Linked DNA regions of Homo sapiens: region 1 is linked to region 2. The links come from fine-mapping of genetic effects on gene expression. A gene starts in region 2. The other region holds a variant in brackets. All regions are shown on one strand. Distances are from middle to middle.

Evidence for each region. PIP is the estimated chance that this variant, and not a neighbour inherited with it, causes the effect. A credible set is the group of variants that fine-mapping cannot tell apart.
Region 1: its variant is the best candidate, but not a certain one, in a credible set for the expression of BBX in subcutaneous fat (FUSION, PIP 0.78).

The regions. Positions count from the first base shown.
Region 1 is chr3:106,695,049-106,711,462 of GRCh38, forward strand. The region is part of intron 2 of LOC105374029 (a long non-coding RNA gene); the gene reads right to left. Among named protein-coding and RNA genes, the nearest start is that of LINC00882, 540 kb to the right of the region's middle. The variant T/C (reference allele first, on the strand shown) is at 6,880.
Region 2 is chr3:107,516,074-107,532,487 of GRCh38, forward strand. It overlaps BBX (BBX high mobility group box domain containing), which reads left to right and starts at 6,889. Exons shown (of 18, transcript NM_001142568.3): 1 at 6,889-7,034; 2 at 10,254-10,325. RefSeq lists enhancers at 6,506-6,555, 9,429-9,478 and silencers at 6,956-7,265, 7,296-7,385, 7,496-7,565, 9,019-9,228.

The sequences.
Region 1 (16,414 bases), 820 kb before region 2:
AGTTATCTCCCTTTACCTTTGTAAAGCAGAAAACTAAGCTCCTTTTGTATCAGCTTGGTATTTATTGACATATTAATACTTAAAAACACTAAGAATAATAACTGAGATGGAGAGAGAGAGAGACAGACACAGTGAATCAAAATCTTTTCTACCCACATGTATTAATCAAAATATGCTAGGTGTGGTAACAAAAAATAATCTTGTGGTTTTCCACAGCAATGATTATTGTATAGACAGATTCTGCTATATGTCCAGCATAATCTCTCCCTACTTGCAGTTAGGAGCTTCACCATCCTGTAGCTGCATCATCTGCAACACTGAGCTTCCTTGATCAATAAACAAGAACAGACTGTTGGAGGCCTCATCCTACCAATTCAACGCTATGGCCTGTAAGTGACAAAAACCACTTCTACTGACAGCCTTTGGCTGTCAGAAATTGGCTGCATGGACAAGATTAGATGCAAGAATAAATTATGTTTATCCTCTTATTTGCCCAGAAAGAGAAGTAAAAGAAATATGGGTAAGCATTCCCACTCCCACATTATCTACCTCTGTGTTTCTCAAATTACATTTTCTTGTCCAGAGCCAATTTTTTTTTTTTAAGCTAGTAAGGAGATCAGGGTAGGGAAGTGGAGACATTATCAGGGGAGGGAGCGAGTTGGGGTGGTCTCAAGCAGTTTGTTTATATCTCAGAAATGGTGGTAGAATTAAAGTCACCAAAAAACACAAGCCCTCATCTCCACTGCTGTTCTATTTCACTTCCCTGTGCACATACGCCTCATAATCTGAAGCTACAAGGCAAACTCCTTATTATGCCTTATAGGACTATAGGATTAATAGATTTGCATATAGAAATATTGTTTAATATTTGCATTTTAATATGTAATATGTAATCCTCAATTGTTTCTTGAGTAATTACTCTAATATTATCTCTACTATTTTTATTACTACTTCTACTGTTATAATTACTTACTATTAGTTAATATTTATTGGTCTACTGAGCTAAGCAATTTAAATATGCATAATTTTCAAAACAAACATACAATGTAAGTGTAATTATCCCCATTTACTGTAAATAAATTGGACAACAAAGAAATTTATAATTTGTTAAATAATGAATCCAGATCTATCTGACTCCAAAGTCCGTGATGTTCAACACTATGGGTAACATACAGAGTAATAGGGATTTATTCTCATGCCATCATCTGTAATCAGCTATCTTAATACCTAAGGTTCTAGGGTGGCAGGGTAGCTGTGCTAGTTGCTGAAAACGTTTCACACAGAACTTAACATGTTTTGGGCATTTGAGTGTTTAATAATGCCAACATATAACACTATTTTTTTAAGTAAGATGAAAATGCATCTTGACTATTGATTTAAATTTAGATCTGTTTTCCGAGTGTCAAAGCAACTTACTAGAAATACATCATTTGCAAATACTGCATCATCACTACACGTTGCCATGAACATCAAGTCGCTTCACTAATTCAAGTGTTGAAATCAATAATTGATTAAAACTCAAAGAGGCTAAGAATTATCCCTTTATGCCAAATTGGCTGACGATAGCCTGCACATGTAATTACAGGTGTGTGTGTGAGACAAGGTAGCTATATATTTTCTCACATTGAAAAATCACGTCTCACTCATAAAGTAGATGGAATAGTGCTCATGACTTCCAGGACACTTTCATGTTTCCGAAAATTCAGTAATTTCTCAATTATTTTTTTTTTTTTTGAGACGGAGTTTTGCTCTGTCACCCAGGCTAGAGTGCAGTGGCTCAATCTCGGCTCACTGCAGCCTCTGCCTCCTGGGTTCAAGCAATTCTCCCACCTCAGCCTCCCAGGTAGCTGGGATTACAGGCGCCTGCTAGCATGCCTAGCTATATATAGTTTCGCCATGTTGGCCAGGCTGGTCTTGAACTCCTGACCTCAGGTGTCAATTACTTTTAATTGGAAAAACTGCAGTTACATTTGCACCAACCTAATATCTCTTGTTTGTTCACTGCCAATCCCTAGAATCTAGCAAACCAATGTTTGCTGTTGTTTGATATTATGTAAGATTTCAAGTCAATCTGTTATAAAGGGCAAAGAAATTTTAAAGTCTATTTACTATTAAGTCAAATTTCATGAAATGTACAAGATCATTTTTCACTGATCTTTCACTGAACAATCTCTCAATTATCCTTTCTTCTCTGTTGTTTGCTTAAAATAAAAATATAAAACTCTGAATAAATTATTCATTATTATGACGTGTCTATAAAGAAAAAATTGAAGTTTAGAAGAGTACATGTATTTATACCCAGTTCTTTTTCCTAACACATTTGAAATAGTACATGAAATATATACAGTGCAATAGGATAGAAACATCATAAGGGCAGGTGAAAGGGAAAAATAAGGTAAACAGAAAATCAGACTCAAGGCAAAGTTACCCAAAAATGTACTGGGATTTTTAAAAATATAAGTTTTGAATTTGACTATGAGCTTCCTAATAGCCAAAACAAAGTAAAAGATACTATCATTTTATAATTTACTAAGTTTATAAGGAGATGAAATACAATTGGCCAGAAAAAGCCAGATACACACAGGAATAAAAGTGTTCACTCGTTGGAGATCACGTACTTATTGAAACCATGTTGCCAATAATATCTTTGTTATTCTTTTTCATAGAAGAGATTGCTTTCCAGGACATAGAAGAAAATTCTATAGCATCTCATTACTTTAGAATCACATCTCAGTTTTGAAATAAAACCATATTCAAAAATTACCCATAATATGCACCAGACTCATTTTTAAATGACATTTGATGGTTTCTGAAGCCCAAATCCAACTTCAAAGTCTCTATATATGATAAAGCATATTCAAAAAGTGAGTGACAGACTTTGAAAGCCATTTTCAAGAAAGTATTCAGAAATATTTTAAGTGATGTTGATATCATAGGAAGACACGTATAGCATATAGGCTCTTAAGGTGAATATTTGAGGGAGATAATGCTTATTGTTATTATTCATGTGACTGACCAAACAATCATATTCGATTGTGATTGTACAATATATGGCAGACCAGGGTGAGCACTGTGATTGCATAGTTTCTTAAATAGCGTTGGGGTACAAATAATCAGTCCTTGCCTTCGATAAATATATTCTTAGGTTTTTGCATGCTTCTGTGTGCAGATATTTATTCTCCTTTAAATGAAGTAAAAATTCCTTTAGCAAAGAAAACTTAATTCTTATTTCTTTTTACCCTTTGCCACTAACAAAGCTCCTATTAGGTGCCAAAAAATACTAATTAGATAAATGAACTCTGCTCTGATCACCTGAAACACTAGCAAACTGCCTGGCTCTCCTGTCACACGGCACATGCAGAAGTGGCCTCACAACATATTTCCACATATTTTTTCTTGAAAAGGCAGCAAGTTAATAAAAAAGAGATGTGAAATATATGAAATATTTTTATAATGTCCTTCTTCTATGCCTTGGATAAATGCTAATCCGAGATTCTGTAATCTGCATGACTGGTATAAGTGACGGAACACATAATTTTCTGATATTATTTTCTCAGGCTATTAAGCTCTGCCCAACCTTTTAAGTATATTGAATTGGAAGATCATGTTCCCACCATTTCAGGAAATTGGTAGTGTCACAGCCCAACAACTTGAGAAAATAATGTTATTTTAGACCGGAGGTAAAAAGAAGAAATGGCAACAAAGAAAGTATGTAAAGCCTCAGACTGGAAATAGTAAATACTTGCCCCGGTGATGTAAAATTTTGTCAGTGTGAGAACAGCAGCACAAAGAATATCCTTGTGATTTATTTAACTAATGAGCTTTCTTTATAGGTCTCTTATTTATACGAGCAACTGTAAATGTTAACCCTTTGGTTTTTTTCATAAATGAACACTTTCCTCTGGTAGCAGGGGTTGGGGACTGGAACGGCTCTGTTGACAATGGAAGTCCGCATTGAGATCATTTAGAAAATAAGTGAAATGGGATAGGTAAAGGCCTATTTAATGAAGACAATTTAATAAAAACCACAAAGGAATGTATTACACAAACAGATTTTATTATAGAAAAATGGAATGCGCTGGAAGAGTGATTTTTAGACTTGGTGATCTTTCAGAGGAAAAAGAGTGAGTACAAACTTTGCAACCTGTTGGCTCTTCCTAATTAGAGGTGTGACTAGAAGGGAGATGGCAAAGCAGTCTCCAAATAAGTGCTGGTTTCCTAGCAACCATGGCTCCAGTGGCTTAACCAGATTTTAAATGCAAACAATCAACCTCAGTACTAAGCCTGAAAGGGATGTTAAGTAAATATCATGGGCAAACTGCAATTCTTCCAAAGAAATGCTCTTCGGAGGCTGTGGGCTGCACTACCAGTCTTTAAAGCCCTCCACTGTGCTCAGGTGCCTGCAATGGGCTCTAAGTCAGCATTAAGTTACATTATGCCTAGACCGTCCCTGATACGCCGATGACCCTACTTATTTCCTGCCTGAACACAAGGCTACATGTGGCACAAACAGACTACAGAATTGAGGTGGCTTAAACCTGATGTGGATCGACGAGAATTTTTTTCTACTTCGTATTTTGCAGCTTATTTTATTTGATTGTGAGTATATTCTTTACAAGCTGTTTTTTAATAAATTTTCCGTTTTGTTCAGTAATATCTTTTCCATTTTCCAAAACACTACTTCAAGAGGTCACTCAATCTAAAATTCTATATGATGTCTTAAGATATCACAACCCTTAAACGCAGCATATGTTTTCAAAACACGTCTCATTCATACAAATTGTTAAATAGAACATTGGTTTGAGCAGAAATTAAAAATGGGTCAATATGAGCACCTCTAGAACCTCTTACTTACTGGCATAATATGCCCCAATACTTTATGGGCAAATACGGAATTTCTAGAAACATGACTAGAAAGCAATTGATTATCTGAGCTAGTTCTCTTGCAGAAGAGGTCTCTGACTGTCCTCAAGGTAAAACTGGAAGACAATCAAAGCCATGGAATAAACCCAGGAGCCTTCAATCTGAATGCATGATGGATACTCACCATTCGACACAGAAGACCGATCACAGAAGTAGTAGTACATTATCCTGTTGCAGGGTGGGTACAGAGGCCTCTTTTAGTAAACTTTTCTTATTAAACTTTTTATTTTGAGATGATTGTAGATTCACTTACAGTTGTAAAAAAATAATAAGAGAGATCCTATATATCCCTTATCCAGTTTCTTCATTTGAAGGGACTTTTAAACCTTGGTGTACTCAGTACAACCAGGAGCCATCAGTAGAGTTGTAATCAAGTAAGTCAGCCTCCAAAAGAGCTCTCCACTTTAACAGTTCCACATATGAGCTTTGTTTGCACGAAATGGTAACTACCACTCTTGGGAGAGTACTGTTAACAGGTAGTTCACCAGAGAGCTCTATTGAAAAGGTCTGACCAGTAGATTCAAGAGGGGAGGTCTCTGAGAGTCAAGAGGTGACTCTTGTCCTTTCTTTTTTCAGATTTGAATCAAATGGTTTTGGGGGCTTAGTGGGCATTAATAAACTATAATATTTGGTGATGTTGGATAAAGTGGTTTGGCTAAACCACTTTAATTCTTAAATTTTTCTACTGCAGGTAGGATTCCCTTGGAATACATGGTTGTAAAATTGGAGATTGGAGATCATTAGGCAGGATATTTATTAGGGAGAACTCCTGGGATCAAAACCTATGGAAGGGAAGGGAAGTAAGGCAGGAAGGTAAAGAAGCGTTATTGGACAATGAAGAAAATTGTGCTGCATGCAGATCTAACAAAGTCCACAGCCAACATGGAGGGCCCCTTCAAATTTGTTTTGCCTGCACTGAGGATGCCAGACCTTTATGTTCTTGCATTGACCAGTCACTGGATGCAAGCTGTTTGTTAGAAGGAAATGTGATCTTGGACAAAAGAGCTCTTTCCAACCCAAGGCAATTTACAGAAAGAATCAAAAGCTGAAGTCTGTCAGATAGTATTGCTCCCAGAAGCTATAGAAAATAATGCCTCATTTCTAAAGGAGAAGCCAGGCAATACATAACAGCATCCACTATATTTCATCCATTGTACTGCTCAGTTCTATTCCTTTACATATGTTCTGACTTGGAATGACAAGGGTTATAGTTACGATGAGCTTTTTCATTTTAACTGGCTTTGACTTATAGGAAGAAGATTTATGGGATGAATTAAGCCCATGCAACTGTAGCTGATCTTAGGGCTGTAATTAATCCTCAGCATCTCTCTTCTTTATCCAGGCAGAAAAAAATCAAACCAGTGTATTTTTCTAGATTTTCCTAATCTTCAATTAGCACCTCAGCTGGTCTTCGGTCTGTGGTCACCATGTGCCTCCAAGACTGTGGCTGCTGTTCTTGTCCATGCAAGTGGATCGCTTGGGAGCCAAACACAGAATTCTGTTTCATAAATGGAAGACATCAGCCTTACTTCCCCCTGATGATCAGAGTCCATTTCCTGCCAGGATTGTGACTCTTTGTGTTTACTGCTTGTCCCTTATCCAAAGGAGTTCAAGGTGACCAGGAGAAAACCACAGTTTATATGCAATAGGACTTTTGCTATGTCCATGGTAAAAGTGTTCTCCCTTTGGGTATCAGGAGTTTTAAATCTGCAAAACAGAGCCAGGCGCGGTGGCTCACGCCTGTAATCCCAGCACTTTGGGAGGCCGAGGCGGGTGGATCACAAGGTCAAGAGACCGAGACCATACTGGCCAACATGGTGAAGCCCCATCTCTACTAAAAATACAAAAATTAGCTGGGCATGGTGGCGTGTACCTGTAGTCCCAGCTACTAAGGAGGCTGAGACAGGAGAATTGCTTAAACCCAGGAGGTGGAGGTTGGAGTGAGCCGAAATTGCA[T/C]CACTGCACTCCAGCCTGGTGATAGAGTGAACCTCTGTCTCAAAAAAAAAAAAAAAAAAAAATTAAAAAAATTAAAAAATCTGCAAATCAGGATTGTGTACACAGAAAGCACAAAATTTCCATAAAGCACAACTAGGAGTGATAAAAAATGTGTGCAGACAGAAACACAAATAGAAGTGATATTAAAGATGGCTACCCTTGCTTCAATCCCTCGATTCTCGAACTCATGTATTCCACCTATTAGGGACAGGAAACTATGTAAAGGCCATCTATCTACTCATGTTGAGATTGGCAAACTATGGCAAATAGGCCAAATCCATCCTATTTCCTGTTTATATAAACAAAGTTTTACTGGAACACAGTTATAACCATTCATTTATATATTATTTAAAGCTGTTTTCACACTACAATTGCAGAGTTGAGTAGCTGCCACAGAGATCATATGGCCTGAAAACCTAAAATAATTTTTATCTCACTCTTTACAGAAAGTTTGCCAACTCTTGATGTTATGTGTATATCGCATCCTGGAAAGTGGTGCCCCGTCTTTGTAAGGAATCATCTCCAAGCTAGCACCTCAGTTTACCTTCACCAGTCCATTTTGTTGCTCTATCATGCCGATAGCTTCCGGGTGGTATAGTGTGGAGTGTGGCCAAAGGATTGCATGGTCATGTGCCCACTCCCACACTCTATTTCTGCAAAGTAGGTGTCTTCATCTGACGTGATATTGAGTGAGATCCTATTTCAGTGAATCACTTTGTAAACCCTTGGTTAGTGGTGCAGGTTGACATCCTGCAGTCAGAAAAGGCAAACTTATACCCAGAAAATATACCAATTATTGGGAAAATGAATTGTTGACATTGGAGGGTAAAGGGGGTCAAATGTAGTCAACTTACCACAAAATGTCTGGTTGGTTTTCTTGAGGATGCTGCTGCATTAGGGATAGATTATTTGTCTGTGTTGCTGACAGGTTGAAGGGTCAGTAGTGGCAGTAGATAGATAAGTCTTGATGAGTTTGAGCCCATATTCTTGACTCCACGCAGAGCTCCCATCCCTCTCAAATGGCTATTTCTTTTTTGTGCCCTTTGTGCAAGCACTGGAGTGGCCAATGACAGAGGCTGGCTGACATTAATTGGCTGGGTCATTTTGTCTCTTCAGCTGTTTAATGCCTCTTTCATAATGACAGCTTTTTGGTGACATTAGCATGCAATATAAAAATGCTGACATTTTATGTCCACTATGCAAGGTACATCTGTGTGCCTCTATTCCATTACAATGTCCCCTATCTTCCATTTTTTTCTTCTTTCAGGCCCTGGCCTTCTAGCCAAGCCATTTATTCCTGCTCATGAATCTCTATGTATTCTTGCTTTGGATTGCTTCTCTTTCCTCATAAAATGGATGAATAGGTATACCAAATGCAGCTTGCCCATCAACTTTCCCTCACCATTGGATTTTTGATGCCTCACCCTCCCACCTCCCCCACCCCTTGAGTGAGACAGTAGCATAATCATGGTCTATTTTTGGCTTGACTAACAAGACAACATATTTGTAAATAAAGCTTTGCTTTATTCCTCCTCCAAATTCCTATGTGGCCATAAATGAAAGCAGAATAAGAGGTTCTGATACAAAAGCGAATGACATGGTGGTGGGGGTGGAGGTGAAGTGAGTGGTTCGGGGAGAGATAGAGGGGGTATCTAAGTCATCTGCTTAAGATACAAGCTTAAATCATGTTTTCTGGCATTGCTTATGCATTATGACAGATACTCTACTTCCATATTACAATAGATTCCTGATGGGCCTACTTATCTTAATTCTGGATCTAGCTTCTGAGGAAAACTCTGACCACATGGTCATTTGATGAACCACAGTGAACTACTCTATTTTTACCAGTGTCCAGTGACAAAAAGGAGAAACTGTTCAAAAGGCATATAATTCTCTGTAAAGCATTGCTCCAGAATAAACTACATTATGTTTCTTCTACTGAGATGTACCAAATGCTCCATATGTGTTTTCCTACCACAGGATCTCCAAAACAGTATAAGGCCCAAGAAGCAGAGAGGTTTGTACTGCAGTCTGGCTCCGCTGCAGATCTTTCCTTCTCTGAGACCACCTACGTCATACTTTAAATGGGCAGAGCAGTTTGTGTGTGTGCATCTTTTATAACTGCCTCAGTGTTATTGTGAAAATTGAAATGTTTTAATACATAAAAGTGATTTATTGGCCTGGCACTGTGGCTCATGCCTGTAATCCCAGCACTTTGGGAGGCTGAGGCAGGTGGATCATGAGGTAAGAAGTTCGAGACCAGCCTGACAAACATGGTGAAACCCCATCTCTACTAAAAATACAAAAAATTAGCCAGGCTTGGTGGCAGCCTCCTGCAATCCCAGCTACTCAGGAAGCTGAGGCAGGAGAATTGCTTGAACCTGGGAGGCAGAGGTTGCAGTGAGCCGAGATCGCGCCATTACACTCCAGCCTGGGCAACAGAGCGAGACTCCGTCTCAAAAAGAAAAAAAAGTGATTTATTGTAGTAATATGTTTTAATTCAAACATATTGTACCTAACTTATTACTATATATTTTTCTGAATTTAATGTGATATGTGAAGTTTTATCCTTCATTATAATTGTGAGATGATTCTAAGTTACATGAACATATGTTCTTCATTCAACAACTTCCCATAGCTCAGAGACTAGAGTTTTAGTAGGTACTCATTAAATATTTGTTGATTAATGAATAAAACTCCCACTCATAATAATCAATAATCAATATCAACAATGATCAATCCACAGATAAAGTTGAGTCTTACTACATATAAGAACTACATGAGTTGCTGCGACAATATACTAACCATCATATTGACTCCAAAGGGAACTTGGTATTAGAGACATAGTATCTTAGGGCTGGAAGGGGCTTTCTCATTCAATTTAGTCACCTTTTGCAAATGAAATAAAGGCTCAGAAATGGATAGGGACATGTCTGAAATGATGTCCAACTGGTTGCATAGCTACATCATAATCTAAACTTCTCAACAACCCTCATAAACATTGTTTCCATTATAGCATTCTATATGTCATTATTTCATTCTTCTGGTTTGCTACAGAAGTAAAATGTTTTCCAGGACAGTATAAGATCTTAAAAATTTTTCCATTAAAAACACACATTAAAGCTTATTAACCTAATTTTCAAATTTGGAATATGGTGGAAGGAAGACTAATAAACAGTCATTTTGATATAAAGGAGTAAGGGGAAAAAAGTTTTAAAAACTAACATCATGTTCTTGCAGTATTGAATTAAATTTCATGTTACTTCTGTTTTCAGATACCATTCTTATTTCCAAACCAGTACCCAGTAAAAGACACATAATTTGTTAATTCATTTTTCTTTCTCCTTCCCTAATTCCACCAATTTTAACTTTCTTATATGAAATAAGTATGCAATGTATCTCGTAGGCAATGTGATTTATCTTTTCCAATTTCCAAATAAATAATGATTAACAAAAACATGTATCTAAGGCCTGATTTGAACTTAACAGAAAAATATCACCATAATCAGTTTTACATGTTATAAAAAATGTTTCAAATGCTATTAAAAATATTTGATTTTTAAACACTTAGATAATTTCTAAAAAAATTTTTCCTACTGATTATTTAGACAGGATGTTAGAAGACCTTAGGGGAGATATTAAAATCAGATGAAATAGTGATATGAGGTCATATCTACTTAATGCAGTAATAAAGGAAATGAGAAATGAGAAAACCTGAAATATATAAATATAAGGCTGTCACGACAACACACAAGTAATAATCAAAATATTTTCTGTGGCATTTGAAAGCCAACAAAAATTGCAAGGTATTGAGAATGAGCAAAAGGGTGGTTTTCTTGAAAAACTTTGACCAAAGATTTGAAGAAAATTAAGTTAACAAAGATCTTAAAATAATAATACAGTGGGAGAGTTTTTTATAGATGGCTCCTCCCAAAAATGATTTTTTTCACCATTTCAAGCGGTAAAAAAATATTTTTGGATGGAAAAAATAGAACCTAGCAATAGAATTCTCCACATAATCATGTCACAGAACTGCCCCCAGATATGTCAAATATATCTTGGCTTATGTTCTAGAATTTTTGAGATCATTAACTTAATGTGCTTAAGTGCCTTAAAAAAGAAATTGGTTATTTTCTACATTTCCATTTAAGGTTATATTCTGATTTCAGTCTTTTTAGATTGATGAAACCCTATTTGCTATATACTATGGATACCTTTTAACATTATAAAGTAATATATCCAGCATTAATAAGGAATTTTTACAAATGGAATAGGGTCATATGGTTTTATTAAAATGAAGAGATTTTGCTTCTAAATGCTAACCATTAGGAGCATAACCAATGTGTTGGGCAGAATGTGTTTTAATGTATACTCACATAGATTTGGTATTCTTACTTTTTAATAAATTGCCTTTGTAACACAGAGACCTCTTCTCTTACTCAGAGAAACTGGAAAAACCTTGTGATCTTGATGTTCTGCTCAAGCATTCTAAGAGAATTGACAATTTCCATCAGTATCCAAGCTACTTTAAAAAAATTCAGCATCTTTTATATCTCCACACCTAATTATTAAGTGTCAATCATAACTGACAGTAGGACAACAAAGCCACACAATTACACAGAAAGATATACTTTCAAATGTCATTCTAAATTTATGAAATTGGAGTTTTACAGTCCTCTTATGAAAATGTCAAAAAGTGCTGACCATAATTTTTCTGTAAGTGGTAAATACAACAAATTCACATCCTTAATGCATTCATCTTTTATTCTTACAAACTGATAAAAATCCTAGAGTCGAATTCCTGTCTTTTTATTTATTGAGGTGGAGATGCTTATTTCATATCTATCGGACATCTCAACACCTATAAAAAGTGACAGGTGTTAAATCATGTTGTGTTGTTGACTTATAAAATTAATTTATTATCATAACAAAATATTAAAATGTTATAGAAGAAATTAAAGATAAAAATCTAGCCCACTCCCAAGCTTAGGCTGCCCAATTCCTATCCTCAAAAGTGATTTGGATAAACTAAAAGATAAATTTATTATTAATCATTTTGGCTGATCCTTTCAGACAGAGTCTATGAGTTTTTATATATGTATATATATATATAATTTATGGTTGTGTTTATATATAAATATATATCAATTATATATAAATATATATAAATTATATATAAATACACATAAATGATATATATAAATAAATTATATATAAATATATAATAATATAAATATATAAATAATTTATATAATTTATTTATAAATATATAAATAAATTATATAAATATATAAATTATATAAATTATTTATAAATATATAAATAAATTATATATAAATATATATAAATTGTATATATAAATATATATAATTATATATAAATTATATATAAATATATATACATTATATATAAATATATATACATTATATATAAATATATATAAACATATATGAACACACTAGATCAAAAAATATATCCTGTTCTGCAATGTTTCCTGATTTTACTATTTACATATAATCTTACTATATTTTATTTGTACATATAATGCTGACTCATTCTTCTAAGTAACTGCACAATAGTCTAATGTATGTTAGTTTCTCAATTTGTTTCATGAGTCGCTTAGATGTATTTCCAGTTTTGATATTAGAAACAATACTCAATATTGTTTGGCTATACCTTTGATCATGTATCTTTTCATACCTCTGTGACTGCATCTGTAGGATAAGTTCTTAGTTGGGAAATTTCTGTGTCTAAGCATTTATTTGTTTATAATTTAAATTAGTTAATTTAACATTATGTTGGCACTATATTAGCTAATTATGATATATTTTTAATATAGTCTCCATATGACGCTTTTTTTTTTTTGAGACGGAGTCTCGCTCTGTGACCCAGGCTGGAGTACAATGGCGTGATCTTGGCTCACTGCAAGCTCTGCCTCCCGGGTTCACACCATTCTCCTGCCTCAGCCTCCCAAGTAGCTGGGATTACAGATGCTCGCCACCATGCCCAGCTAATTTTTGTATTTTTAGTGGAGATGGGGTTTCACCACATTGGCCAGGCTGGTCTCGGACTCCTGACCTCAGGTGATCCGCCTGCCTCGGCCTCCCAAAGTGCTAGGATTACAGACGTGAGCCACCGCACCTGGCCATATTATATATTTTGAAAGTTTAAAGTTAATCAACAATGGAACACAAGATAAATAATATTTTATAAAACAAAAATCTCAAACCCTAAACAGGGAAAATGATTTGGGAAAATAGTCGATAGCCAACATTGAAATTAAATTTTTAAAGAGCACAACCTAATGAGAATAGCAATCACTATTTTGTAAAATTTAAAATGAAAATAAAATTAGAACTTGAGTTATATCAAGATAATTAATTGTTAGAAAAACACCTATAATGGGTGTGGTAATTTCTTGAATTTTCAGTATTTGTAAAGCAATGAAAATTATTTTATGCCAAATGAAATAACATATATGTCATCAATGCAGACAGTAATTAGCCAAACATTTGAATGATTCATGTTTAAAGCTATTGAAATGGAAAAATTTCTTGAAAATGTGAAAAATTATTTTCAATTTCAACGGTTTTAACACGATAACGTGAAGTAAGTCTGGAACAAAGCTGATAGATACCTCCTAATTTCTAACCATTTTTGCTGATGTAGAACAAACATATATTTCAGTAACATATTCTGTTTTCTCCTTCACTCTTTTACTGGCTAATGTGGGGAAGGGAGACTTACTTCAGATGTTTGAAAATTATCATCACTATAATTAATTATTTTTGCATACATATATAAAGAAATGAAATAGTATGTCAATTGGAAGAATTTAAGATCTAGAGTACACAGCACTAGGCTAGCCGCTGTGTAGTAGTCAACATTTATTAGATCTCCAATTTCCCAAACGTATAGAAATTTCCCAAATATATAGAAAGTACAGCTGTGTTCGACTCTTCTAAAAAAATGAAAGAAAAAATAAATAATCCATAATCTTCCAGAAGGTTTTTCAATATTTTTTCCTTTAACAGATAGATCTAAAAATATTCTTTGAGATCTCCCTTATCTAACTTCTTTGAGAATGTGGGTTTTATTTCAAAATGCCCTTCCAATAATCAAATATTAACTTTAGCGTATGTTGTTTTATACGTATTTATTATCAGAAGAACATAAAGAAGGAAGAACCATTTAAATCTCTCTCCTATGTGTACATATATTCAGCAAGTTTCTAACATTTATAATGATTGCATTTATCGTGAAGATTATCATCATCTTAGATCATCAGCATCTGCCTGGTTCCAAATAAAGTTGCAGCAATAATACCTAAAACAGTATTCATAAAAAAGATTACTATCTCTTTAATAAAACATAAAACATTTTTTCCAGAGCTTTCATTATCAGTTCTTGAATGATTTAGTGCCCTTGCTTTTTTATTCTGACACATATCTGCACTGCTTTCAGAAGAATTCACTCATCACTTCACCAAGATTAAGTGGAATGTACACACTACACGGATCATTGTATATTAGGAACAATACGTTGGTCAACATTTGAGTCTGATTCTGTACCTAGTATTGTGCCAGGTTGTACGTGTATACAGAGAAATATGGTCCATCATTTCTAGGAGCTTCCAAACTATCTTGGGATTAATGACCAACAAAGAAAAAGCCAGACAGCAATAATAAATGACATATGACAAATGAAGAGAAAGGCAATAGAAACACTATAGATTATTTTTTTTTTTTTTTGAGACGGAGTCTCACTCTGTCACCGAGGCTGGAGTGCAGTGCTGCGATCTCGGCTCACTCCAGCCTCTGTCTCCCGGGTTCAAGCAATTGTCCTGCCTCAGCCTTCCGAGTAGCTGGGACTACAGGCGCCCGCCGCGGCGGCGGCTAATTTTTTTGTATTTTTAGTAGAGACGGGGTTTCACCATGTTGGCCAGGATAGTCTTGATCTCCTGACCTCATGATTCACCCGCCTCAGCCTCCCAAAGTGCTGGGATTACAGGCATGAGCCACCGTGCCCGGCCAGAAGCGCTACAGATTTTAAGGAGAGGGGGTGGGTAGTCATTGTTTCATAGAACAATTTGTCTAGAACCGACCCTTGAAAATGAATGGGATTCAGACTTGCAGAGAAAAAAAAAAATTTAGGTGTGGGTAATTGTGTGAATAAAGGAAGGTAGACTCTATAAGGCACATTATAGAGGATTACAGGGGATCGGTTTAGGAACATTGAACAGATCCATCTGGCTAAAATAGACCTTAAGAGAAAAAAATTTCCATGATATTTCCATGGAAAACTGTTGGACTCTAGGTCATTTTAGACTATAGGGACATTCTAGCCCATAGGGACTTCTAATACAAGTCTAAGGAAAAAGTACCTTATGTTATGGGAAGAGGTAAAATCTTAAAAGGTTTTTATTTTAGGTGTTAATGCATAGAATGCTGTATAAAAATTAATCTAGGTATGAGAAGTAATATGGGATTGTGAGATGCCTAATACTAATACCTAAAATTTAATCAGCACTTACTGCATAATAGGCACTGTGCTAGAAGACCAACATGGATAGGTTCATCTTTATATATCCTTAAAGACTTATATTATAATTATCCCCTTTTACAGGGGAGAACATAAAGCTAAGATAGATTCAAATTTTTTCCAAAGATCCCCAAGGTAGCCCATTTCTGAGCTGGAATTTAAATATAGGCAATAAGTCTTTATGTCAGAGTTCTGGAGTCAAAGAAGGGAGTTAATAAGTTATTAGAAGTAGTCTTTTGTGACAAATTGCTCCACTGTGTAGCCACAGTATAAATAAAGAGGAATGAAAGGGTATTAAAGACAATGTGGAGGAAAGATTAGTTCAAATTGCGCTGTGAAAGTGCAACACATTAAAGGAATAGAATTTTTTAAGTTGAGGATGTATTAGCACCGCATGCATTTCTTTGTCAAAACTTGCTTCCGCCTTTTCCTGCATTACATGGTCATGCTAGCAATAGCCAGTTATCCTAGATTGGTTTGAAAGAAAATTCAAAATGAAAACAATTTGCAGATATCTAAGAATAAGCTGATTTTGTCAGATTGCTCTGTTGGTAATGGTTTGGTTTTGCATGAATAATTTCTTTCCAATACGTATTCGGTAGAAATATACAAACCAGTTTTGCAAATAGGCCCCTTAAGAAAATGTTAGCATTGTCCTCACCTATTTTTCCTAAAGTCACCTTTCCATCTGATTGTTTTTCTTCAGTTTCTTTTGGAGTAAACACAAAGGTAGTAAGGAAAAACTGCTCAGGTAAATTTTTGTAATTTCATCTTAAACAGATTCCTATGGAAAAGTAACAATAACAATGAGCTAATTATCTAATTTTTGTCAAGTGGTTAAAGCAATTATGAAGGAAATACTGTGTGTTATTGTTGAAGTCTGATGAGTGTTACTTTATAAAGTGTCAATTAAATAAGATGAAGTAATCACCCTTTTAAGTCATCCACAATCCTG
Region 2 (16,414 bases):
ACCAAGATGCTGAGATCAATAGCAAATGTGTTGAATAAAATGATCGCATACAAAAAGATGTTGGCAAAGTGGAATTATGGGCTGAATCTCACCGGCTTAAAAAAAAAAAAAAGAGAAAGGAAAACTCTACTTTGTGTACTTCGTACATGACAAGCACTGTTTTAAGTATTTTACATATATTACTTAATTATTGTAATAACCTTATAAGGTACATTATTATTACCTCTTTTTTACATGAGGAACTGAAGCAAAGGGAAGTTATATAATTTGTCCAAGTTTACAAAGTTAGTAAGTATTGGATCCAAATACTGACCCATCTTGGTATAACTCCAAAAACTCAGCTCTTAATCACTGTACAATACCAAGGTTAAAAAGGCGTATGCCTCAATATGTCCCAAATAAATGATACAATACACAATGGAGAAGACACGGCTTAACAGCCCACGTTTTAAAAACGTTTTTTGTTTTTGAGAATAAGCACAATATGGGTCAGCAGAGTGATTTGTAACAAAGTGACTGCCAAAAAAACATGCTCTATCTCAAGCTGCATTAATAGAAATATTGTATCAAGGAGCCATGGTCATGCTGTTCTGCACACTGCCTCAGCTCCCACCTGCTCTGTATATCACACATCAAGGAGCACATCCACAAAGACAATAGGCAGGGTTTGAGAGACCAAGAATCAACAATGGTTCCTAGGAAGAAAGTTTTAAGGACTTGGGACTATTAGCTTGGAAAATGGACAACTCAATTCAGGGGGCAGTCATGATAGCTGTCTTCATATATATATATCAAGTGCCACATGGAAGAGGGATTAGATTTTTTTTTGTGGTCTCAAGGGGGTAGAAAAAGAAACAATGTGAAACTTAAAAGGAGAGAAATGATGTTAAAATACCAAAAAGAACTTTGTAGTGGTCAAAACTGTCAGAAGATGAAATAGACTGTCTTGGCAAGAAGAGAGTTCCCAGGATATGGATGTGTCACAGCAGAAGTTCCTTGCTGGGGATGTTGTTGAAGCTTCTAATGGGACCATGGCTAGAAAGACCTCTCTGCTAACGCTAAAGCATACTGATTTGATGATCAACTCCATTAGTGTAAAATCATTGTCCACTTAGAGACCTATTTTTATGGTATGATTCTTAAGTGTCTCCCTGGTCAGTCCCCTCTCCCTTCCTCCAAAAAAAAAGTAGACAGCTTCCAGAATGAGAAGTCTAGGACCTTTGTATTAACCCAACTCTGTTACTAGCTTTATAATATTAAAGGAATAATTTAACATTTCCTCGCTTTAATTGTTTTCATTTATAAAGAAGGTCCCTCTATCTGTCTCACCTACCTCATCTGGATTTTAGTGAGTATGCTAGGCTGTCTCATGTAAAAGTGCTTTAGAAAATTACAACAATATGCAAGTATAATTTATAATGCCTACAATGTAAGTTCTGTTTACCATATATCTGGGACCCCCCCAACCTTTTCTGACACTTCTCTTATCCTTGGATTCTCTCTGAGCTTCCTTAGAATTTATGGCATTTTTGTTTGTTTTTGCTTGTCTTCTTCATTAATTTTACAAATCTTTGTTGTTATTGTTACATGTCAGTCATGTATTAGTTACTGTTCTAGCCACTGTTGGAAAATAAAACCTTGAAGGAGACAACATTTTCCTCAAGGTGTTTGCCATCAAATAAAGATCTCTACCAATACATACATAACATAATGCAAGGCAAGATATTTGAATGCCTTAAGAATAACATAGATAAAATGCTATAAAAGATCACAGGAGAGTGGGAATTCAAAGATGTTTGGCCCCAAGAATCACCCTAGGAAAGCAGGATATTCTCCTCTTTCTTTCTTATCCCCAAGTCTTCTGGGACACCATAGAAGCTGGTTCTCTTCAAGATTATGAATTTCTGCATTGGTGCTAACAAGTGGTCCAACTATCCAAGCTCTAATTTTTACTGCCTTTGCATTGGCTTGAGGAGAAAGGTATGGTTTTCTCTATTTATTTTCCTGTAGAAAGAGAAAAAACACTTTTTCCTATAGAAAGAGAAAAAACGCTGAAGCTCAGCAAGGTCAAGTACAAGTCATAAATTGTTATGTAAGGCAGACCCTCATCATTGTAACTATCTAGAGTTTCAGTGCACAAAACAAGGCCTGTTTCAAAGAGTGATTTATTACAAGTTTGCTTTTTTAGGTGCTTAATAATGCCCACCCAATAAGATGTTTGCTTTATCCTGGGATCAGGCTGACATCTCTTTTATGTGCAGAGATGGTGGAGCTGGTAGAGTGTAGGCTAAAAGGAAATTGCAAACACTGGGCAAGTAAGTTGTAACAGGTTCCATAAACTCCATTTGATATGATAGTTAAGTCCTAGAACACTTTCTGTAAAGCATCTGTCATTGGTTTGTCTGTGTGGAAAGATAAACACGAATAATACTGATTGAACCTTTAGTATATTCCAGGCTGATGCGTTTTATATGTATTGTTTCAATTATGATTATTCCCATTTAATAAACAAGGAAACTGAGTCAAAGTGATTGGGGAATTTTTCCAAAGTTACTCAGCTAGAAAGTGGCACAATCAGGGCCCGGCGCGGTGGCTCACACCTGTAATCCCAGCACTTTGGGAGGCCGAGGCGGGCAGATCACGAGGTCAAGAGATGGAGACCATCCTGGCCAACATGGTGAAATCCCGTCTCTACTAAAAATACAAAAATTAGCCGGGCATGGTGGCGTGCACCTGTAATCCCAGCTACTTGGGAGGCTGAGGCAGGAGAATCGCCTGAACCGGGGAGGCAGAAGGTGCAGTGAGCGGAGATTGTGCCACTGCACTCCAGCCTGGAGACAGAGCAAGACTCTGTCTCAAAAAAAAAAAAAAAGAAAGTGGCAAAATCAGGATTTGTATTAGGATTGTATAAAGAAGTCATATATGAATAAAGAAATAAATTATGTGTAGGCATACATTTAAACAATATATACATTTGTTTATACACATCTAAACACACACTTAAATTTACTTTCCCAAAATTATTTTATGTCACAAAAAATGGCCCATATAAAATAAAATTCAGAAAACAGACAAAGCCATGAGAAGGAGAAGTACGATAATCATGTAAGTTTAGTCTGTGATTGGTCATCAAATGTGAAAACAAAAAGGGAAAAGGGTCGTCCCTTTTTAATGCCATTTTGCCCAAGTAACCAACCATTGTTTTTATTTTCATAACCCTACATTATAAAAATTAAGTAAACTCCATGAAAGCTATGATTTTTTCTGATCATATTTTAAGTTTCGAGCATAACTAGCATTTAAAATTTCTTGGTATTTATTCTCAAATGAGGTAATAAACATTTTAAAAGTATTTCCAAAATGGTAAAATACTACATTAAAGTTAGCTCTAAGCCTCTTTTCCTTACTTAGCAGTGAGGCCCTACGGACCACACAGTAGAATGGAATTCTATTCTATCCCTTCTCCTAGGAGCAGGTAGTTTTCCTTTTCTGGCATCTGACATGCACAAGAGCACATGGAACCCTCTCAATAAATATTCTGCCAAAGAATATTGAAAAATGGCTTATGCTGGAACATGACGCCCAATGGAAATACGGTACCAATATATAATATGTGTTTAAAAAGGTGTCATTCTCTCAATCCGAAGGCCTGTGGACCTAACAATTTTCTAGTAGCAGTAATGACTCATAGGAAGTCACTGCAATACACTTTATGTTCTTCTGCATCAGTCTTGGTCAGTTAGCACCTTGCACTCTCAGAGGTGTCCAAACTGGAATGCAAAGTCCTGGGGCATGTGCTAAGACTCTATCATAGGAATCCACACTTCTATGGACTATAGAAGAAATTAAACTCTTATTTATTTTTTATCTCATGCTTTTAAATTTTGTTTTTGTAAATATATGATTTATAATAATAAATAATAATCTATGCAATGGTGCATTTTTTTTTTCTTTTTTGGTAGAGACAGTGTCTCTCTATCTTGATCAGGCTGGTCTCAAACTGTTGGTCTTGAACTCCTGGCCTCAAGCAGTCCTCCTGCCTTGGCCTTCCAAAGCACTGGGATTACAGGTGTGAGCCACGATGCCTGGTCCAGTGGTGAATTTTTAATGTGTACATGAATATACATATTGAGACTACATGCTCAAACATTTTACTGATAGCAATGTGTGATCTAAAAGTTTGAAGACCGTACCTCTAAATAATTCTGCTAAGCTAAGTGTAATTCAACAAAAATATCTTGTGACCATAAAAATATGAAGAATGTTTTCCTATGGTTGGAGGTTGGGGATAAGAGTGGGGAGTAGGATAGGCTTTTCTATTTTTCACAACATAGTTCTACTAGCAAATAATGCACAACACTTCACTCTGCAATTAAATGTAGCAACTCCTGTCGACTTTTTTTCCTTTTCAAAAAGGAGCACAGTGAAATTCTAAGAAAGTTTTTTTGGTTTTCCCTCCAATTCCCTCTTGCCTCTGAAGTTCATGATTTGGAGGGAAGGGTTGTCAAATTACTCAAAACCTGTGCTGGGTATTAAAAGTCCTCGGTTTAAGTTCCTTCTTCATTATCATTCTGTGCAATATGGAGCAGGCTATATAACTTGTCCCTGACTCATTTCTCCTATGGGTAAACTAGAGGTGATAATACTTAGCACTGACCTCAGAGCAGTGTAGTGTGGATAAAGAACATTTTGTTCCTTGTGTCAACTAAATGAAACTGCCATTAATAGACTTTTTTTTTTTTTTTGAGACGGAGTCTCGCCCTGTCCCCCAGGCAGGAGTGCAATGGTGCAGTCTGTACTCACTGCAACCTCCACCTCCTGGGTTCTAGTGATTCTCCTGCCTCAGCTTCCCGAATAGCTGGGATTACAGGTGCCACCACTACGTTCAGCTAATTTTTGTATTTTTAGTAGAGACGGGGGTTTCACCGTGTTGGACAGGCTGGTCTCGAACTCCTGACCTCAGGTCATCCACCCGCCTCCATCTCACAAAGTGCTGGGATTACAGATGTGAGCCACCGCGCCCACCCCTAATACAAACTTTGATATTATCTGTTTAAAATGCTGTGATTGGCTGGGCGCTGTGGCTCATGCCTGTAATCTCAACACTTTGGGAGGCCGAGGCAGGTGGACCACCTGAGGTCAGGAGTTCGAGACCAGCCTGACTAACATGGTGAAACTCTGTCTCTACAAAAATACAAAAATTAGCCAGGCATGATGGCAGGTGCCTGTAGTCCCAGCTTACTCGGGAGGCTGAGGTGGGAGAATCTCTTGAACCCGGGAGGCGGAGGTTGCAGTGAGCTGAGATCACGCCATTGAACTCCAGCCTGGGCTACAGGGTTAGACTCCATCTCAAAAATAAAATAAAATAAAATGCTGTGATTTTTTATATACTTTTCCTTTTAAAAATGATTTTTCTAAAAAAATAAACATCACATTTCTAAATACCACTTTGTTTTCTGAACTTTTTAAACTTTTCTGATTTTGTTTCTCTTTCTCCCTCTTACACAGGAGTGCTCACATGCACACATACACTCTTTTAACAACTTTATGGATGCGAGAGAAAAACCTTAAGACAGCATCAAGGAAATAAAAGGGGAACTGAAATAAGTTGCCCTAGTTGGGTTTTCTTTAAGTTTTAAAGCTACTTACCTAGGCCATAAAATCGTAGTGTTTATGTAATCTCCAAAATGTTTGTATTTGAGAATAATTCACCAACTCTTAAAACGGAAGGAACCCTAAGAAAACATCTAGGCCTAAGATAATGCCTGACACATAGTAGATGCTGAATAAACATTTAATTGAGGGAATCTGGAAAAGCTTCTTATTTTAATCTTAAAAATCAAAACCAAGTCTGAGCATTGGAGAGGTTAAGTAACTTGCTCAAGATTGCTCAGCTGGTTAAAGAGTTTAATCTACAATTTATTCCTTCTAATTTCCAGCTTTGACTTCTTTCCACCAACCTGTTGACTTATGTGTATTGAACTGTCTCATATAATCTTCTGAAGTTGCATTGTTGAAAAACAATCAGAAAGACCAGTCCTGAGGTTCATCATCTCCAAAAGTCATGCAACATATGATGTTCACATGAGATGTGAAATATGTAAAGAGTCATATATTTTTATATATAATATGCAAAATATAAATCATGTATATATTGAATCAAAGGTCTGTTTTGAAGGCTAAGGGTCAATAGCCAATCTTCCATGACTTATTTTACCTAACAGCACAGTTTGCATGTCCACACAGGTGATGGCAGTCCACTGACCAGTTAAAAGTTGTTTGGCTATTTCAGCAAAATGTTTATCTTTGTGTGTTGTTATATTGATTTTTTTGAATCTACCTACGAATGAGGCACTAACAACCTCAATGCATTAGAGTCCTGATAAACTTATCTTGCACTATTTTGGCCTATGTGATAGCTAACCCATTGACAAAAGAAATCCAAGGTGATAAAAGCCTTTCTTGGCCACTTGTTAGCCGGGTCAGGCTGTAAAATCGTAACACAATGCAGGCCTCTTCCATGGGGCACCAAAAGGCAGCGATGAAAAACCCCCCTCACTTCCATATCCAGTGGAGTTGTAGTTTATTACCATAACCCTCCCAAGTCAAAAGGACACCAGTTTCAAGCCTTGCAACTTGGTGCAGACAGGGGTTTTCCCCTTTACCCCACTCTGCTGGGCCTCTTTACCTGTCCTCTCCTACTGTCTACAGGTCCCGAACATTAGAAAATAGAAAATGTGATGATCTTTGTGTGTCTCTGTAAAATGTGTGTATGTGTGCGTGTGTTTGGGTGTAACGGGCCTCTTGTTTGGCTGCGCGGCCTGTCCGTCACTGCGCGGGCCAATGGCAGGCTGCCTTATATAAAATGAGTGTTTTCAGTCTCTCCGGGTTGCATGTACTGTATGTGGAGCAGTGTACAGTGAAGCGGAGGCAGAGCGGCTCCGCGAGCTTCTCTCCACTTTCCCATAGAGAAACCCTGACTGGCCGCTGAGGGCTAGCTACACACACGCCCTCACGCCCGGCGAGCCCGCGAGGTAGGCGCCCCCCATCCCCAGCCCTCCCTGGGCGCACTCCCCTCACTTTCTGTTTTCCTACTCACTTGCGAGCCGCCGGGCTGCAGCCCCAAGGACTCCGCGGCAGGAGCAGCGGCGGCGGCGGCGGCGGCGGCGGCGGCAGCCGGTAGGGTGGACTTGAGGAAGACGGAGGGAACCCCGCGCGTCCGGAGCCGCCGCCAGCCGGCCCGCTCCCTGGGCACTTTCCCCCTCCGCCAAAACTTTGGGTCGGGAGAGGTCGGGGGCGAGGGTCGCGGCGGCCGCGCCGGCTGGGGCCGGGGGGCGGGGGGCGCTGAGGCAGTGCCCTGCGAGCGGGAGGCTGGGGGCCGGGCTGGGGAGTAGTAGGCCAGCCGGTGCCAGGCTGCGTTTGCAACCAGCACCTCTCGGCACACAGGCAGCGCCGCCTGAGAGGGGCACGGGCGCCGGGGCGCGGGCTGGAGCGGCCCCAGGAAAACAACAACAGAGCCCTCACGCCGGCGGGCGGCTCGTGGCCGCCCGGGGAGCCCCAAACTTCATCTCGGCGAAAGTACGTGGAGCCCTGCCTGGTCTCGGCTGCCGGGGAGGTGGGGCCTGGGGAGCAGGGGCAGTGGAGGAAGGTACGAGGAGCCAGCCTTCGGTGGATTTATTGAACGTTTCGTCTGCGTTGGTGACCGGGAACAGCAGCCCAGTTGCTCGTTCATCTGGAGAGTTGGGATTTGGGTGTTCCGGCCCCGCAGATCAGTGCCCTCTCACCCCCCACCCCTACCCAAATGCGCGGCGAGTAGAGAAAGTGCTGTTTTAGTGCCAGAGTAGCCTGGAGGAAGAATAGGGGGAGAGGGGGAAGAGGGCGAGGGAGAAGGGGAGAGAGAAGAGGGAGGGAAGGGGGGGGAGAGAGGGAGACAGAGAGAGAGGGAGAGAGAGAACGGGAGGGAAGAGAGGAGGGGGAAGAGGAGGAGGGAGGCTGTGTCAGGATTTTGCTTGAATGTGGGATTATGTTGTGTCAATAAGTTTAAGGTGGAGAGAGCGAGGCTGAGGGTGGTGGTGGAGGGGAGGAGGAAGGCCTTGGCCGTTTAAAGTCTTATTTCTGAAGGTAAGTTACGGCTTTGCCTGGTCGCGATGACAGAAAACTTGCAGATCCTTTATCCGGGGATGGGGTCGATGCCTCTAGAAAGAGCTCCCTAGCCCTCTTAAGCCACACTCGTGTTACACTGTTATTTGCTGCGATCCGGGTCGCTAGTAAATTACAGAAATCAGACTCGAGGTTTCTTTTCCTCCTCCACCTCGTCTCGCTCACTCACCCTCTGAAATTTATTATCATATTTTATTTATTTTTTGGTATTGTATGAAACTTAACATAACTGAGACCGAACCCGAGTCCTGTAATTTACAAGGACCCTGAATCCCAGAATCTGGAACACGTTTATGTGTGAAATAGCCGCGATCATTTCTGCTAAATGAGGAAGGTAAAACGAAACGATGCAAAAAGCTAAGACACAACATGTACGACAGAGGGGGGGGGGGGGAGAGGGAGAGACAGAGAGAGAAGCTATTTTTTGCTTTCCTTTCTGTAGGAAGGAAAATAAAGCGTGCATTCCCCTTCCTTCCCAGTGTGTAGGGTCTAGTCAATATTTTAACTGTCTGTGGACAAATTAGTCCAGGTGGATCTTGTTGAAAAGTTTCGCGAGGTGGGGTGGAGGTGGGGGGGGGGGCGAAGGGGAAGGTGGGTGGAGGTTGTGGGGGATGGGGACGGAGCGAGCTCTGCCTCTGCTAATGGTCATTGGCCTGGGGCTTTGAAACCATTGCCTGTCCTGCTAATGACACGTCCAGTTCTCTTCTCCCGGCCGCGGACGCCGGGCTGCCGTTCCCGGGGTGGCTGACTGGGACTGGGGTACTTTCCCCGCGCGGGGAGGGGCGTTCTTCGCCATCTCCTGGGGTTGCCCACTGGCGGCGTGGGGGCCCCCACGCGGCCCCCCGCCCCTGCGCGCCGCCGCCACCTCTGCTCGCGCGACTTTTGTAGGCAGCCAGCGGCCCAGGGGCGCCGGGGGTCCCCGGCGCCGACGTCCCCGCGCGGCCACCCCGGGTCCGGCCCCACGCGCTCTGCGCCGCGCGGTCCAAGCCCGGAATGGCAGCGCCGGGCCGGGCGCCGGCGGTGCCTCCCTGGGGGGCAGCGGAGGCAGAGGCAGTGGCGGCGGGATCTTCGCCGGGGCCCGCGGGAGGAGGAGGAGGAGAGGGAGAAGGAGGAGGGGAAGAAGGAGGAAGAGGAGGAGAGGGAGGCGTTTTCTGCCCAGACCGCCGCCAGTTCGAGCAGGCACGGGCACGGGGACACCCCACTCGTTGCTCCTCCGTTATGGAAAGGTGTTTAGCAGACTTTTACGCCCGGAGTGTGGTATTTGCACTTCATTTTTTCTTCCCCCCTCTTTCCCAAAGCAAGATGGACTCTATTCCCTTTCTCTTTCTCCCACTGCCTCTGCCTCTGTCTTGTCAGCCTTTAAGATCGACATTTTGTACTAAGATGCAAACTTGATGGTGACCAGCAACAAAGCCGGGGTGGGATCCCTCGCTCTCTTCCTCCCTCCTTGTTTCCTAGCTCCCCCCACCCCGACCTCGCAGACCTGGTGGCCCTGCACTTGCCGCTGTGGGCTTTGGCGAATGTGTTTTCCCTGGTCGGTTCCTATCTCCAATCTGGGGATTGTGACCCGGGCTGGGTGTTTGGGAGACGGCAGTGGCCGCCCAGGTCTGAAAGGCTGAGGGCTTCGATACCTGGACCCGCTGCCGCCGCGGTGGCACCTCCCGCCGTCTCCTGGGCAAGGCGAGGCTCGGGCTGCCTATCGATCCCTATGATTTGGTTACTGGTGTGTTTGTCCTGGGGGCGGTGATCACTTGTGCAAGTTGATGAATGATCGCGGTGTGGTTTTTGCGTTTGCAGAATGGATCAACTTTCTGCTTTGTACATGTGGGGAGTAGGAAGCGAGGGTACGGGAGATACCCTAGAATGCCAGTTGGGTTGCCCCCCAGCCTCTGCCCTTTCAATACGGGGAGCTTCTTTGCCTTCTGTTCCCACAGTTCTCCAGTGTCGGGGGGTGGTAGAGAAAGGGGAGGGGTTAGTGGGAGCTGGACTCCTGGGTTTTGGTACCTTCTCTTCATAGATGTTACAGGACTTGGGACTGTACTATTGTAAAGCCCTACTATACTGATGATGTACCTTTATTTGATACTTTATAGGTCACTATCATATGACAAAGGCTTTGCCGCAGTTCATCTTCCTCCCTGTGTACTTTCCATTTGCCTTCCTGGGTAAGTATGCAAACTGTTCGTACAGGGAAGCAGGATGACAATTAGTAATGACATAAGGGTCTTTATTGTTCACAGAGGAAGATGCTTTATTGGGGTTACAGCACCCCAGAAACCTTGTCTCACTGAGTTTCCCACAGCATAAGTCAGTTTATGATTCTTAGTGTTTAGAATTCAGCTGTGGGTTATTATTAAGATAGTAAATATTCATTTTGTGTTTATCTACAAGTAATTGTCGTTTCAAAACTTATTCTCAAATAGACATTTTAATTTATAATGAAATTTTACATGGCATTGAAGGTCTAGTAAATTTAATGCTAGACAATACTATAGGAAGAGTGCAGTGTATGAGTGGAGAGAATTATTAAAAACCCAAGGAAGCATTGTGCAGAAGTCCTCTAATTATAGTGACTGACATTTGCTTACTCTCTCTCAAGTTCTCTTTCTTGAGTAACCTGTGGTGTTTGTAACAGTTACTTTTGGGGTGGGGAAAGGTGGGATTGGCAGTGTGGTAAATCTAGCGTTTAGTGCACTAATTTGATTCAAAATTGATCATAATTTCTTTTAAAACTTACATGTTTGGAGAAATTAGGAACAATTCGGTAGCCTGTAAATTTAATAAACAAAGACTTTGAGATCTGTTGTTAAGTGCCTTTTTCAGATATATGACTCCCAAGTGGAAAAATCTGCAAAATATGTGTGGGACAGTAAGTGTGTGGAAAATTTGTGAGAGGTAACAGTGTGGGTAAGAACTGAGGGTTTACAGAGCATTTGAAAGCAGCACAGTGAGCCTAATCTGCAGAAAACCACCTTGTAAGTTTGCCCCTCCATTGTAAAGGAACACCCCAGGTACTCTTGAGTTGTTGATGTTTGGAAACTAGTACTAAATTGTGTAAATCAGCTGTAGTGCTTTGTAATATTACCATAGTGAATTTAGAGATTGTATTTTGTGAATGAAAATGAACTTGAACTTACTTTTCTGTGAAAGAAAATTTAGAGACCTCATCTGTGGTGTTTCCTGGATTGCTGACATAATGTGTACATTAACAAAATTATTGTCTTTGTATTAAGAATATAAAACTGTTGTCTTAGTATTGAGTTAGAGGACTAGACCTTTCTGGTAGTGTCCATTTGGTAACAAAATATACTTTCATGTTATTGAAGACTTTAGATAATCTATGTAAGTTTTGCATTGAACATTTAGAAAATCTAGAGAACTTTAGATAATCTGTATATGTTTTGCATCGAACATTTTCTATGGAATATAAATATTGCATTACTGCTGATAATTAGGTGGTTTGTTCACTAAGAGCTCAGAATACATCACATACATAGCAGGCCAATCGGAGTGTCAAAATGAGAAGGTTCTATAAGTTGAATTTAGTGCACACTAAAATACATGGATTTCATTGTCTTTGAGTTTTTTTAAAGCTTGTTTGAAAAGTTTCATTTTGGGCAAGAGTATTCAAAATGCATTCTTGATTACTAAAGAACACCACATTTATACTGTTAGGCACATTATTTTGTTCATTGCAACAAACTGTTAATATTCCTTCCCCATGGAAATGTGTTTGACCAATTCAGAAATTAATATGATAGGTTAGTAATGTTGAGAATAAAAGTCTGATAAGTGCTTGTATTTCTTTGAGATATCAAGTGACTGCTTCATTAAAACAATATTTTCAAGAACAGTCTTGGACTTTGAAGTCAGTGAAGTAGTTCTGATAGTGTAAATCTTGTAATAGTGATCTAAAAAAAGTCATTTTGACAATGAATTGCCAGTTATTGGCATCTAAAATGTATCTATTAGATTTGAGGCTTACTTATCAAAATAAGAATTTAAAGACGTTTTTGCTTCTCCATTTCCAAGTGTTTCCAAACTTCCCATTTTATTATTCTGCATGTCTCTGTTAGGTTCTGAAACTGAAGCCCTAGTTTGCATTTCACATTTAATGCTAGCTATTGAAAAGGTGGCTCATCTATATTGTTTCCTAGTGTTACCTCTTTGGAGGTACTGTGGCAGTTTTAGGAAAAATCTTTCTCTAGAGACATAGATGTTTTTTAAAATTTGCAATTTTTGAAACATTAAGAAAATGTATCTTGATCTTCGTATCCATTTTTTTGTTCAAGGTATATGAGTTTTTGAGATAGCTGTGCTTTTAACATACTTTGAAAATGGTATATATAGCACTTTTGACCTTATAGATCTGATTTTTATACTTAATCCATTAAAACAGATTCATGTAGACATTGAATTTAGAACATATCTTTGAATGAAAATGAGGTTGCACATATGATTACGATTGGCCTGTGCCGTAAGTAACTACGTAGTTGATAAGTTTTCTGTATGTTGTAAAAATAAATAGGTCTGAAGATGTTGTGCAACTCATGAAAATCTAACTCAGTAGCTAAAATATTTATAAAGCCACACTTTTCAGTAAAATCACAGGCAATTTTTAATTACTAGTCAATAGTCAGCCTACTAACAGTATATGTTTTCTTACATTTCATAAAGAACATGGGTAAAAGCAAGGGGTATATTTTTAAGTAGATCTTGTCATGAATTTCAATTACTTTTATATTAGAAATCTTTAATAGAAATGGTAAAGGCTTCACAGCTCTATACTACTAAAAAAAGAACTTTTTGAAAACAGTTCCATTACAGATGTGCCTTTTTGCTGTACTACAGGAAGTCCCTGAAGTTATTATTAGTGTCTTAAAAAAGTATATAAAATGTTGACAATTGTTACATCAAATGCTCCAAATTACTAAATATAGGCATTAATTTTAACATATTACATTACCACCAACGTGGCATACCTGTGCTTTAAGATTTAACCTTAAGCAGGTGCTTAACTTAAGAGGAAGATGCTTTTCTTGAACTTGTACCTTGAAGTCCATCTCATTGTTTAACATTTCACCACTGAGGGTACCTTTTGAAATGGGCCTGAGTGGTATCTCTCCTGTATTTTTTGTCAGATTCCTTCTTGTCACTATGAAATGAAAACAAACTCAACTTTACTAAGGACATTGTAATCTTACTGCTTTGTTTTTATCGTGTGTCCCAGGGAAATCAGATGCAGGCAGTCCTCAGTACACTGAGCAACACTGCTATGAAGGGAATAGGTAAAGAGAAAGACTGAGACTGAATGGAGGCTCTTCCAGCTTGAAGATTCTGTGACTGTCATTCAGTCACTGGGTGTTGTACTACCTCAAGGGTAGTCATCACATACTGTGTCTAATTGTCAGTATTTCTGTATTTTAAGTCATACCTGTGGAAAGCACTTTTTGATTACAACTTCGCTCAATGTTCATATGTGATATTATCCTTTAGAAGGCAGTTATATTTCCTTGAAATGCCAGTACATCATTTTAAAACTGTACAGATATACCCAGAAAATCCTCATGTATTAATGGGGATTGTCTTCATTTTTTTTTTTTTGCTTTCAAGGAAACAGGTAAGAATTGAAATAAGTGCCAGTTATGTGAGAGAATACAAAAGAAGCAAGCCAGTAAAGAATTTCATCTAAAAGTATATATAAATAGAAGATGAGAGAATGAAAGACTTAAAAGATTAAATGTAGACCATGAAGCATTGATATTACCAAATGTACCAAAATGTAAACTTAATAAGTTAAAATATGTAAGTTCGAGAATCTAGATAGTGAAATGACTTCAGATAATGAGAAGGTTTGTATAAAATGCAAAGTGACAGGCTAGGTTTGGTGGCTCACACCTGTAATCCCAGCACTTCGGGAGGCGGAAGCAAGTGGATCACCTGAGGTCAGAAGTTTGAGACCAGCCTGGCCAACATGGTGAAACCTTGTCTTTACTAAAAATACAAAAATTAGTCAGGTGTATTGGTGGGCACCTGTAATCCCAGCTACTTGGGAGGCTGAGGCAGGAGAATCCCTTGAACCTGGAGGTTTCAATGAGCTGAGATTGTGCCACAGCACTCCAGCCTGGGCGACAGAGCAAGACTCTGTCTCCAAAACAAAACAAAACAAAACAAAACAAAACAAAACAGAAAAACACAAAGTAACAATGAGAATGAATTGGATTTTATGAAATCTTAAAAAATTAAAAATATTTTAAAATGTTGATTAAATAATTAAGCCAATGGTTAAACATGGTCCTCGGATGAAAAGTTCAGGGAATAAAACAAACTCCTGGAACAGAATAACTGAACTCTTAAAAGGAACATACAAGGTTGCATTTTTTGTAATAGGAATAATTAAATAAAAGGCCAATAACCTACTTTAGAGGAGAAATAAGAATGGGGTAAAAATTATTCAAAACAGCTGTATTTCTCAAATACTTTTGACTGAGGTATATTATAAAAAATACCTTTAACATCCCAATCCACATAAAAGAACTGAAACAAGTTTCCTGAAACAGGACAAAGTGCAGTGCCCTCTGATATTTTCTATTCCTAACTAATCTTTATAAATCCAATCTGTTTCAAGCCATTTTATTAAACAAAAAATACTAGGTATTATCTATCAAATTGATTTCATGACTTATAGTTTGAAAAACACTGGCCTAGAGTGCCTGCTTGCCTTCTTAGAAATGGAGGTCTCTAGGCCTCATCCTTTGATATTCTCATTCAGTGTTTCTGGGGTGGGGCCATGGAATTTAGATTTTAGCACATGTAGCAGGTGATTCTAAAGCAAGTAGGAGGTCCTCCAATTGACTTTGAGAAACCTCAGTACAAAGGACAGATGGCCTAAGATTGGATGTTCTGAATGTGGGGCTGAAGTTCATTGACTTTATGAGGTGTCTTGCATCTTCACCATTCTTTGGCTGTATTTCAGTCAGTATGTTTGCAATACTGAGGAAGGTCCTCATCACCCTCTGTAGGTGCTCCTGTAGTAGAAGGTGTAGTACAAGGAACAGAGGCCGTACCACCAAAGAGCTCTAGGTTCCACTCCTGCTGCCTCTATTGCTTATTAGTTGCGGGACTCTGAGCATGTTACCTCACATCCCTTAAACTTTTATTCTCATATGTGCACAATGGGTATGGTAATGTTTACCATGCAATAATATGGGGATTACACAAGACAGTAATGAATGTAGGACCCTTATTCACAGTTAGCGCTCAATATATAGTCTCTGTTTTTGTAATTACATCTCATCTCACCCTACCCTCCACTGTTTGAAATTTCTGAAAGCCTTTTAGTTTTTTTTTTTTCTCTAAAGTGATTCTCACCTCTAGTTATCATGAAACATGGGTATGTTTTTAACTAGACATGAGGTGCTGGACAAGTAATTTGTTAGGGAAGGAAATAATAAGAGTAACCAGAAGGAGAAAAGCCAAGCACAGCTGAGGCACGCCACAGTAAAGTACAGTCCTCCTTCAGGTTTGGGGAATGATTTTCCCACCTCTTTAAAAAAGTAGAGTATGGGATGAGAGAACAGCTCTTTTCATATTTCACGGTAGTTCTCCCTTGTCAGCACAGGGCATTCTCTCTGGTGACTTATAGATATTAGAATGTCTTAGAGTATCAGTTCTCAAACTTTCTTCCGTCAAGACACATGTGTAATCCCAGCCCTTTGGGAGGCTGAGGAAGGAGGATTGCTTGAGCTTAGGAGTTTAAGACTAGCCCGGGCAACATAGTGAGACCTTGCCTGTACTAAAAATAAAAACAAATTAGCTGGGGGTGGTGGTGTGTGCCTGTAGGCCCAGCTACTCGGAGGCTGAGGTGGGAGGATCACTTGAGCCCGCACGGTTGAGGCTGCGGTGAGCCATGATCGTGTCACCGCACTCCAGCCTGGGTGAAAGAGCAAGGTCCTGTCTCAAAAAAAAAACCAAAACAAAAACATGTGACCAATGTTTACATATGGGACATTATGATTTCCCCTGGTTAACAGACAGATAAATTATGCTGTGAGTTTTATAGGTAGTTCACAGTGTGATAAAGCCACTCCTTTTTTAAAAAAAGTCAAGAAAGGCATATCAAATTGCAAGTGAGAATGGTGCTATAATGAAAACTTCGAATATACTTAATAAACACATGGAAAATTGTAAATTATGGTACTTTAATTGTTCTAATTGGGGTGTTCCTCATAAACAAAACCCATCCTTGTGTCAA